4 separate regions of the Homo sapiens genome follow, and all the other regions are linked to region 1. Evidence: fine-mapped expression QTL. A gene starts in region 1. Each other region holds a variant in brackets. All regions are shown on one strand. Distances are between the middles of the regions. Region 1 holds the start of NIPA1 (NIPA magnesium transporter 1). Region 2 overlaps NIPA1 (NIPA magnesium transporter 1). Region 3 overlaps NIPA1 (NIPA magnesium transporter 1). Region 4 overlaps NIPA1 (NIPA magnesium transporter 1).

The links. PIP is the estimated chance that this variant, and not a neighbour inherited with it, causes the effect.
Region 2: its variant is the best candidate, but not a certain one, in a credible set for the expression of NIPA1 in blood mononuclear cells (TOPMed, PIP 0.77).
Region 3: its variant is the best candidate, but not a certain one, in a credible set for the expression of NIPA1 in hippocampus (GTEx, PIP 0.62).
Region 4: its variant is the best candidate, but not a certain one, in a credible set for the expression of NIPA1 in blood mononuclear cells (TOPMed, PIP 0.50).

The regions. Positions count from the first base shown.
Region 1 is chr15:22,785,020-22,787,777 of GRCh38, forward strand. NIPA1 (NIPA magnesium transporter 1) reads left to right here and starts at 1,625. Exons shown (of 5, transcript NM_144599.5): 1 at 1,625-1,815. The coding sequence starts at 1,638. RefSeq lists silencers at 1,297-1,530, 1,493-1,852, 1,923-2,072, 2,083-2,212 and an enhancer at 2,563-2,672.
Region 2 is chr15:22,820,337-22,822,836 of GRCh38, forward strand. NIPA1 (NIPA magnesium transporter 1) reads left to right here. Exons shown (of 5, transcript NM_144599.5): 4 at 1-137. Among named protein-coding and RNA genes, the nearest start is that of NIPA2, 17 kb to the right of the region's middle. The variant G/A (reference allele first, on the strand shown) is at 969.
Region 3 is chr15:22,810,787-22,813,286 of GRCh38, forward strand. NIPA1 (NIPA magnesium transporter 1) reads left to right here. Exons shown (of 5, transcript NM_144599.5): 2 at 1-10; 3 at 1,377-1,467. Among named protein-coding and RNA genes, the nearest start is that of NIPA1, 25 kb to the left of the region's middle. The variant T/C (reference allele first, on the strand shown) is at 1,038.
Region 4 is chr15:22,805,959-22,808,458 of GRCh38, forward strand. The region is part of intron 1 of NIPA1 (NIPA magnesium transporter 1); the gene reads left to right. Among named protein-coding and RNA genes, the nearest start is that of NIPA1, 21 kb to the left of the region's middle. The variant A/G (reference allele first, on the strand shown) is at 1,439.

The DNA of each region.
Region 1 (2,758 bases):
CGCCCCGCTAATTAATTTTTTTCTTTTTTTGGTAGAGACGGGTCTCGCTACGTTGCCCAGGCTGGTCTTGAACGTCTGAGCTCAAGCGAGCCTCCCACCTCGGTCCCCAAAGTGCTGGGATTATAGGTGTGAGCCACTGTGCCCAGCTTGTAGCATCGTTTATAGACAACAAAACCTGGCAGCAACCGGCCAGGCGCGGTGGTTCACGCCTGTAATCCCAGCACTTTGGGAGGTAGAGCGGACGGATCACCTGAGGTCAGGAGTTCAAGACCAGCCTTGCCAAGATGGTGAAACCGCGTCTCTACTCAAAATACAAAAATTAACCCGGGCGTGGTGGCGGACGCCTGTAATTCTAGATACTCGGAGGCTGAGGCCGAGAATCGCTTGAATCCGGGAGGCGGAAGGTTGCAGTGAGCCGAGATCGCGCCATTGCACTCCAGCCTGGGCGACAGAGCGAGACTCTGTCTCAAAAAAACAAACCAACCTGGTAGCTACCTAACACCCAACAATGGCTGAATGGTTAGACAAATTATTATACTGTCATTAGAATAATCATATTTATGTACCGATACAGAAACTGATATATATTAAATAAAAAGGAAATTTCGTATATTGTAATTGGAAACATGTAAAAGTATGTATACATTATGGGAAAACACCTAAAATACTAATAATTAGGTGAGGGTTGTGGAATTGAGTCACTTTAAAAAATATTTTTTTCCAAAAAAAATAAAATAACTTTTTCCTATTTTTCAAGCTTGTAATTTTGTTGTTGTTTCTTTTTTTTTTTTTTTTTGAGACGGAGTCTCGCTCTGTCGCCCAGGCTCGAGTGCAGTTGTGTGATCTCCGCTCACTGCAAGCTCTGCCTCCCGGGTTCACACCCTTCTCCTGGCTCAGCCTCCCGAGTAGCTGGGACTACAGGCCTCCGCCACGACGCCCAGCTAATTTTTTGTATTTTTAGTAGAGACGGGGTTTCACTGTGTTAGCCAGGATGGTCTCGATCTCCTGACCTTGTGATCCACCCGCCTCGGCCTCCCGAAGTGCTGGGATTACAGGCGTGAGCCACCGCGCCCGGCTTGTTGTAGTTTATTAAAACGAGGAAACTAGACTATGGGATCACAAGCCCAGAGCCCCATGTAGCTGACTCTAGCGCCAAGGGCGGAAGAGAAACGCCCAGCGCCAGGGCTCTCCTTCGATCTCTGCAGCGGCGCGCCGGGCTTCGCGCTCCGGTGAGTTGGGCCGGCCTCCGCTGGAGGCTCTTCGGGGACCGCTGCCCGCCGGTGCGTCCTGCCGCGCTCCGCTGCCCGGATATTGCAGAGGACACCACTCAGAAAGTATGCGTGTTTCTCCGCGCTGGAAACTTAACCAGGAGTCCTGCATTTCCATTTGCGAAATCCGGGAACCCCCGCCCCACCCAGCGCCTCACCGGCCCCTCACTGCCGCCGCGTCCGGCGCCACTGCTGTCCCCGCAGCCTAAGGCGCCGGTCCCTGGCACCCCCGTCCCGCCCCCGCCCCTCTTCCTGCTCCTCCCCCACCCGTCCCCCTCCCCTCCCCCGCCCGCGCCTCCCGGTCACCCCCCATCCCGCCCCGCGGGGCGCGGCGCGCAGGCGCAGGCTCGGAGGGCGGGCGCGGGCGGAATGGGGACTGCAGCTGCGGCAGCGGCGGCGGCGGCGGCGGCGGCGGCCGGGGAGGGGGCGCGTAGCCCGAGCCCCGCCGCCGTGTCGCTCGGCCTGGGCGTGGCCGTCGTGTCGAGCCTGGTGAACGGGTCCACGTTCGTGCTACAGAAGAAGGGCATCGTGCGTGCCAAGCGGCGAGGTAGGGCGGGCGGCAGGCGGCAGGCGGCGGGCGGGTGGGGGAGGCGGGCGGCGGAGAAGGCGGTCGCAGGTGGGGGCGCCCGGGTCGGGGCAGGGGACGGGGTCGGGGCCCGGGCCCAGGTTGGGGGAAGGCTGCGCGGGCGGGTGCTCCCCGCGGCGTGCCCAGGCTGCCGCCGCGTCCTGGCGCTCGGGCCCGGGAGCGGCCCAGGAATCACAGGTGCGTCCTGAGCGTCCGGCGCTTCGCCGACGCCACGGCTTTTCTCCGTTCTCAGCGGCTGGAGCGGCTTGCTTTGGTGTGCGGGCTTCCCCGGCTGACTTTTTCCCTCGGTCCAAGACCTGCCCCGCGCCGCCCGGCAGCCCTCGCCGTGGCCCGCAACCCGCGGCCGGGAGCCTCCTGCGGACGCGGTGCTGGGGTGCTCGAGCCCAGCGCCCGCCTGGAAGCGCCGCTTCAGCCGATGCGCGGCCCGCTCCTAGGGTACGCTCGGTAGAGCAAGACCTGGGATTTCCAGTCCCCCGCAGGGGCCTCGCTGGTGCAAAAGGAAGACCCGGGCGGGCTCTCAGGGCTGTGCGTTCCTGGGGTGCTCTTACGGAGCCCGCTGCGCCTTAGACCTGCACCAAATGAATACAAGTGATCTTCAGTTTGGAGAACACGCGCGGCAGATCCAAAACCAAGCCCTGGACGGGCCAAGGCCACTTCCCAGGTGGATGTGCCGCAGCACCGCACTCCGTAGTGCTCTGCGGGGTAGAGCTCTCTGTCAGTGTCGTTTGTGCTGGGAGGCCCCGGACGGGACCGGTTTGCCAATGCAGGATATGGCAGGCTGTGAAACAGTCCGTTTCCATTGCTTCCAGAGGGACTGAGAAAGTCTTGTGGTTCTTGGCCATACTCTTAGAAGAAGAATATTAAGAGCTCTCTGGGAAGGATGTGGCCCCCGACTCTTGGGTTG
Region 2 (2,500 bases), 35 kb after region 1:
GAAGGAAAAGCTCAACATCTTGGGCAAGTTGGGGTGCCTGCTAAGCTGTGCAGGCTCCGTCGTGCTGATTATCCACTCCCCAAAGTCTGAGAGTGTGACAACTCAGGCTGAGCTGGAGGAAAAGCTGACCAATCCAGGTAATTCCTTTCTAGCAGCACTGCCAAGAAAGTTTGCAGTAGGAGTGCCAACTTTTTTAACCACGTCTTCAAATTGGATGCTTCCTGGCAGGGCAGAGGAACCGTGTGTCCACCCTGATCTGTTACTGTAGATCTGTGTTCTCTGGGAACGTGCATCAGTGGGCTGTGCTCGCAGGCTAGCCCTCTGCCCTCACCCTCCCGCCTGATCCTCAGGCCCTGCGGGGAGCCTCCGTGGCCTGGTATTCCTTCGGGTTCTCTTCTGGGGCCTTGTGCATGGGCGCCTTCCCTTCCCACAGTGGCTCCCCTTGGGCCACCCTCCCAAGTCTGACTGCCACCCGCCCCTCCCCACATACCTTTCCTGGTGTACCCTGCCCACTCTATCTCCACCTCAGCACTTCACTCCCTCCAGCGTGAAGCTCTGTGAGAACAAAGACCTGGCATCTCTTAAGTTTAGATTCCTCATATAGCCCTGTTTATATATCTTTTGACATAATTTCTTTTCTTTTCTTTTTTTTTTTTTTGGAGACGGAGTCTCGCTCTGTCACCCAGGCTGGAGTGCAGTGGCGCGATCTCAGCTCACTGCGAGCTCCGCCATTCTTCTGCCTCAGCCTCCTGAGTAGCCGGGGACTACAGGCGCCTGCCACCATGCCCGGCTAATTTTTTTTGTATTTTTAGTAGAGATGGGATTTCATCATGTTAGCCAGGATGGTCTTGATCTCCTGACCTCGTGATCCGCCCACCTCGCCCTTCCAAAGTGCTGGGATTACAGGCGTGAGCCACCATGCCCGTCCTTTTTTTATTTTGATAAATACACTAAAAACTACTATCTAC[G/A]TGATTACAACAGACTTAAAGTATAGATTTCACTTTAAGTAGACCACCCTGTGTTGCTTACCAACAAGTTTAGGCAGGTTCCAGCACAAAACTGCCTCCACATCAGTTTGCTGGTTTACATGTCCACACTCGCTGGTTTGCATGTCCATACTCGCTGGTTTGCATGTCCACACTCCCTGGTTTTCATATCCACACTCGCTGGTTTTCTCGTCCACACTCACTGGTTTTGTCCACACTCGGTGGTCTGCATGTCCACACTCGCTGGTTTTCTTGTCCACACTCACTGGTTTTCTTGTCCACACTGGCTGGTTTGCATGTCCACACCCTGGTTTGCATGTCCACACCCTGGTTTGCAAGTCCACACTCGCTGGTTTGCATGTTAACACCTAGTTTGCATGTCCACACTCACTGGTTTTCTTGTCCACACTCGCTGGTTTTCTTGTCCACACTCTCTGGTTTGCATGTCCACACTTGCTGGTTTGCATAGCCAGCAGTTCCCAGCCCTCTCAGGTCCATTTGTGATGTTGGAATGGATTTCATGGAAAACACAACCTCCTTATACACACAAGTTCAAACCATCAATTTAATGCCCTAACTGTAATATAAAGGAGAAATACCAGGACAATACTTTAAAACAAAACATCCCTTTCAATATGTAAATGCTCAGGTCCCACTATAAGAGAAGACCTATTGAAGCTGGCCGACCCCACACCTTGTGAGGAGTGGTTGAGAATCTGGTAGCTGCAGATATAGACTGACGTGGGGGTGTAATGTTATTGACTGGGACACTTGAGGTCTTGCTATCAACAAAATGATCCTCAGATGGAGCATAACTCTTAATGAAGTTTTGATCAAAGAACAATCCTCCCTCAATTTACATGGAAGTGACATGTCTGAAGAATTCAGCATATATTAAATCCATGCAAAAATTACTTTGTTTCATACATAAAATAGTTTCTAGGCTCTGATTATTATAGGCATATTTTTCAGTTACAAGTCCGAGGAGACATTCAGCAGTTGTGACGAGAATGGGATGATTTTTGATGGGGGTGGGGGTTGCTGTCTGCACATGCCTCTGCCCACTGGATGCAGCCCCCAATCATTGCAAAACCCACAAACACCCCCACAGCTTAAAGTCCTCCCTCCTGTCCCCTGCCTTACCCCTGCCCCCTGGATTCCCAGGTGCTTTTTTGAAACCTCGGAGCATCTCCATTCACTTGTATTGTTAAGAGAATGTTTCTAGGCCGGGCACAGTGGCTCACGCCTGTAATCCCAACACTTTGGGAGGCCGAGGACGGCGGATCACCTAAGGTCAGGAGTTCGAGACCAGCCTGGCCAACATGGCGAAACCCCGTCTCTGCTAAAAATATAATAGCCAGGCGTGGTGGCGGGTGCTTATGTATTCCCAGCTACTCAGGAGGCTGAAGCAGGAGAATCGCTTGAACCTGGGAGGTGGAGGTTGCAGTGAGCAGAGATCGTGCTATTGCAATCCAGCCTGGGCAACAAAGAGCAAAACTCCATCTCAAAAAAAC
Region 3 (2,500 bases), 26 kb after region 1:
ACAATCGCAAGTAAGTAGCCTGTGTGGCGAAGTCTGGTCTTTTCCTTTCTTAGAATCCATCACTGGTCTGGGCAGGGCTGGAGTGGCTGGGCTAGGGTGGCTCTGTTCTTTGGAAGAGGGTGTCGCGTGGCCTCTCCCCAGGCCCTAAGCGTGCCTTTCAGTTCGGATGTCCCTGCCTCCCCAGGGCACTCTCCCTGCTCCCCTTCCTCCCAGGATGAGAGTGCAGAAGGACAAGTTAGGAGCTGGTGGAGGCCCCTGCTGCCCACGATTAGCCGTGAATTCAGTCCAGGCTGATCTGTCCTGGGCCCGAAGAAATTAAAACAGCTCCTGCTTACTCATGTAGTCGGGCTGTTGGCATTTGGTGAAATTCCATGTTAGGCTGCCTTGTTTTTCTCAGCACAGTTGGTTTAACAGAGAATTTCATGAGTCAAAGATCAGGTCATGTGCTATAATGTAAAGATAAATAATAATATTAGAGTTCAGAACTCTAAATGTATTATAAAGGACAATTGTCTTTGAAATTCAGAAATATTATGTTTGGCCAGGCATGGTGGCTCACGCCTGTAATCCCAGCACTTTGGGAGGCTGAGACAGGTGGATTGTTTGAGCCCAGGAGTTCAAGACCAGCCTGGGAAACATGGCAAAACCCTGTCTGTACAAAAACAAAAATTACCTGGGCATGGTGGGATGCACCTGTTTTCAAAGCTATTTGGAGGCTGAGGTGGGAGGATTGCTTGAGCCTGGGAGGTGGAGGCTGCAGTGAGCCAAGATCACGCCAGTGCACTCCAGCCTGGCTGACAGAGTGAGACTCTGTCTCAAAAGAAAAAAAAGAAACATCATGTACTTTGTTTGTCACATTTGTCTTTTAATACGACATTACGTGGCAATACCAATTCTGTTCCTTGAAGAGCTCCTCTTTAAGCTCCATCTGGGTGATGTCCCTGCTGCAGTCTTGTGCGGCAGTACTGTATCCTCTTGCTATGCCAGTGGCCTGTCACCGTGGCCAGCTGCCTATGCCAGAGTAGGTCCCAGGCCAC[T/C]AGAGGGTGCACAGGAAGTTCTGCCTGATTTGTGTGAAAACAAGGATGTGTTAAGAGAGCGGAGATATGCCCAGTGCTGCGCCCATTTCAGTCACTGCTGGTTAGGTTCGGCATTTCCATGGAGGGCTGAACCTACTCACCCGACTGATGGGACCAGTGAAGGTGTGGTTCCTGACCCCTGACCCCTTAAATGTGCAGATGACACCCCAGATGTGATTCTTCACAAGTAATGTGAATGAAGTAGCCCTTTCAGGGCAGAGCCTAGCGTAATTCAACTGTGATCAGTGCTGGAAGAGAGCTCTGTAATTGCAAGTAGTATCCTTGTGATTTTCTTGACAGTGGCTGTTGGCCAGATTGGAAACTTCCTGGCTTACACGGCGGTCCCCACGGTCCTGGTAACCCCCCTGGGCGCCCTTGGAGTACCGTTCGGGTGAGAGCCAAGATTGTGTTTGGTATTTAATGTGTAGTGTAGATATAACAACTTTTCATTTTAAATGTTTCTGTTAAAGTAATAAGAGCAAAATTGTAATAGAAGATAGATCTTCAGGCCGGGCATGGTGGCTTACGCCTGTAATCCCAGCACTTTGGGAGGCCAAGGAGGGTGAATTATTTGAGGTCACGAGTTCAAGACCAGCCTGGCCAACATGGTGAAACCCTGTCTCTACTAACAATATGAAAAATTAGCTGGACATGGTGGCGACCACCTGTAGTCCTAGCTACTCGGGAGGGTGAGACACAAGAATTGCTTGAACCTGGGGGGCAGAGGTTGCAGTGAGTTGAGATGGCACCACAGCACTCCAGCCTGGGAGACAGAGCGAGACTCTGCCTTAAAAAAAAAAAAGAAGATAGATCTTCAGTATTCTACTCTATATCGTTTAATTTTATCCCTTCAAATGTAGTTCTGGGTAGTATTAACCCTTTTCTTAGATATTTAGTATATTTGAAACTGTCACTCATTTTTCCTGCTTATCAGTGAATCTGATGCTCTCATTCTCCTGGTCGTTGTCCTGGAGTACATCTTAGAGACTAGAGAGTCTTCTGACACCTTGGCAAGTTATTCTGAGAACTCATTAAGCAAAATGACTGAGTTGGTGTTTTATTGGGGTGCTTAGCATTCCTTGCTGGATGCCGGACAGTCCCCACCTCAGCCCAGGAAATTACAGAGGTTGGGATGAATAATACACGGCATCAATGGATGTGAAATAGGATTTATGACTGACGCAGTCAATAGCACATGGATTTTCTTAGGAGAAGGTCCCGGGTTTGGTTCTGAGTGAGACGAGTGAGGGGGACCTTTGGATTTTTATTGTAGTTAGGTGGTGGGGTGGGCTGGGGGGCGGTTTGCATGCTTAGGCCGGGCTGGCATGGAGTGAAGTTTTTGCCCATGCCAAGGGACTGAGGACTCTGGGAACTGAGGACTCCAGGGACCCAGTGTGTGCGCAGGCTTCTTTTTAAATTTTAAT
Region 4 (2,500 bases), 21 kb after region 1:
TGTCGCCCAGGCTGGAGTGCAGTGGCGCGATCTCGGCTCACTGCAAGCTCCGCCTTCTGGGTTCACACCATTCTCCTGCCTCAGCCTCCCGAATAGCTGGGACTACAGGCGCCCGCCACCACGCCCAGCTAATTTTTTGTATTTTTAGCAGAGACGGGGTTTCACCGTGTTAGCCAGGATGGTCTTGATCTCCTGACCTTGTGATCCGCCCGCCTCGGCCTCCCAAAGTGCCGGGATTACAGGCGTGAGCCACCGCGCCCGGCCTAAAGCTGTATTTTAAGGACATTTCCGACACATTTATAACTAAATGGAAGGTCTAAAGCCACATGCCCCTGGTTGGACAGCATCACTGTCAGTTGATACTGTCATCCTGGCAAGGCTCTTTTGTGTTTGCACAAACACTTCTTTGTTTTATAGTTTAGCTGTTATAAACAGCTATGCAACTCTCAGCACCCAGGGTTTCCAATGAGAGGAAAACCAATGGAACTTAGCGATCATATCCTCTGCAGCCCACACCTAGGAGTGGGGGAGGAGACGTGAGTGTGGCAAGACAAACAGCATCCTCTGCATCCTTCAGTGCTGCAGCTCCCTGTTGTTGCTGAGGCCGGAGGACCTGCAGATTAATAGAGGACCGTCATCAACTGGGAAGAGGAGAAGCTTGGGCATAGATACCTACTGAGAGTGCTGGCTAATGAGCTTTCGGAACAACAGTGCTTAGGGGCAGCAATGCTTAGGGTGAAACTGTGAAGAAACCCAGTTGTTTTAGATATCCTCACAGATATCTGTATGACGGGCCAAGGGCTAATATGGAATGCAGACTCCTAGGAGCTCCTGGCAAAAGAAGGAGGAGGGAAAATGGAGCAGCCAACTCAGTGAGGAAGCTGGGCACACAGCCATGCACTTCCTGCAGGGCAGAACAGGGGACACCCCTGGACCGAGGCTCTCAGGGACCATGTGCAGGAGCTTCACTTTTGTTTATGGGTAGGGGTATGGGACAGGTACCTGGATGGAGAAAAACCTGACTTGCTTAATGTCTGTGGATGCAGAAAAATTTTGCCTAATACTGGTTTAAAAGGTGAGGGTGACCTATACACCTTTTGATTTGTGCAAATCCAGGCTCTTGATGGAGAGTACAAGTTGCAGGGCCTGAAATGCTTGGAACTGAACTGGACCCTTTGGGAAAAGAACAAAAACCATTTTGTTCACTTTGCCATTCCTGTGTACCTGGTATTCCAGGTTCCTCCTCATTTTGTGACTTTTGACATTTTATAAACTGCCAAAAACATATACTATGTGATGATCAATGTTGGGATAACCATAGCAGTGAAAGGGGGGTGCCTATGGGCCTCATTGCACTGGTCACTGTCATCCTTGACCAGCTTTCACTGTAGGAGGGTCACACAGTCCAGCTGCTGTAGCAGGAATCCCATGACTTCAC[A/G]AAACGTCCTGACCAAACCATGTTCATTACAATAAAAGGACAGCTGGATGTGGTGGCCCACGCCTGTAATCCCAGCTACTTGGGAGGCTGAGGCAGGAGAATCACTTGAACCTGGGAGATGGAGGTTGCAGTGAACTGAGAGACCATGCCACTACACCCCAGCCTGGGCAACAGAGTGAGACCCTGTCTCAAAAAGAAAAAAAAAATCTAAAAACCCAATAAAAACAAAATCAAAAGTTGGTTCTTTGAAAAGAACAATGAAATTGACAAACCTTTAGCTAGACTGACCAAGCAAAAAAGAAGAATCAAATTACTAAAATCAGGAATGAAAAAGGAGATATTTTCTGTATGCCCTTAGGATAATTTCCACAGAGTTTAAATTCACTTGTGTGTGTGTGTGTGTGTGTGATGGAGTCTCTCTCTGTTGCCCAGGCTGGAGTGCAGTGGCACAATCTCGGCTTACTGCAAGCTCTGCCTCCCAGGTTCATGCCATTTTCCTGCCTCAGCCTCCCAAATAGCTGGGACTACAGGCGCCCACCACCATGCCCAGCTAATTTTTTTTTGTATTTTTTTTAGTAGAGACGGGGTTTCACTGTGTTAGCCGGGATGGTCTCGGTCTCCTGACCTTGTGATCCACCAACTTCGGCCTCGCAAAGTGCTGGGATTACAGGCATGAGCCACTGCACCCGGCCCACTTTGTTAAGTACTTTATTTATTAGTTATGGTGGTTTTGTTGGGAAACTGGTCCACAGACTTTTCACACTAGTATTCTGGACCTGATGACCTTTCACTCAAGTATTCGGCATGCATTTTGGGATAGCCACTTTGATTAGCACATTTAGAAATCTAACATTGATTCTGTATTAATAGCTGACTCTCCTACAGTGCCCACCATGGGACATTCTTAAGCTTCGCTAAACTTTCTGCTTCATAGGACACCCTGGGTCCTGTTTGTATTAGATACACTGAGAGGGACACCAGACAGGAGCCCCAGTGGTGCCAGGCTGTCTTCTCCAGTGGAGCCTGGCAGCAGAGGTAGGGCGTGGCTCAGGGCTGGGAGAC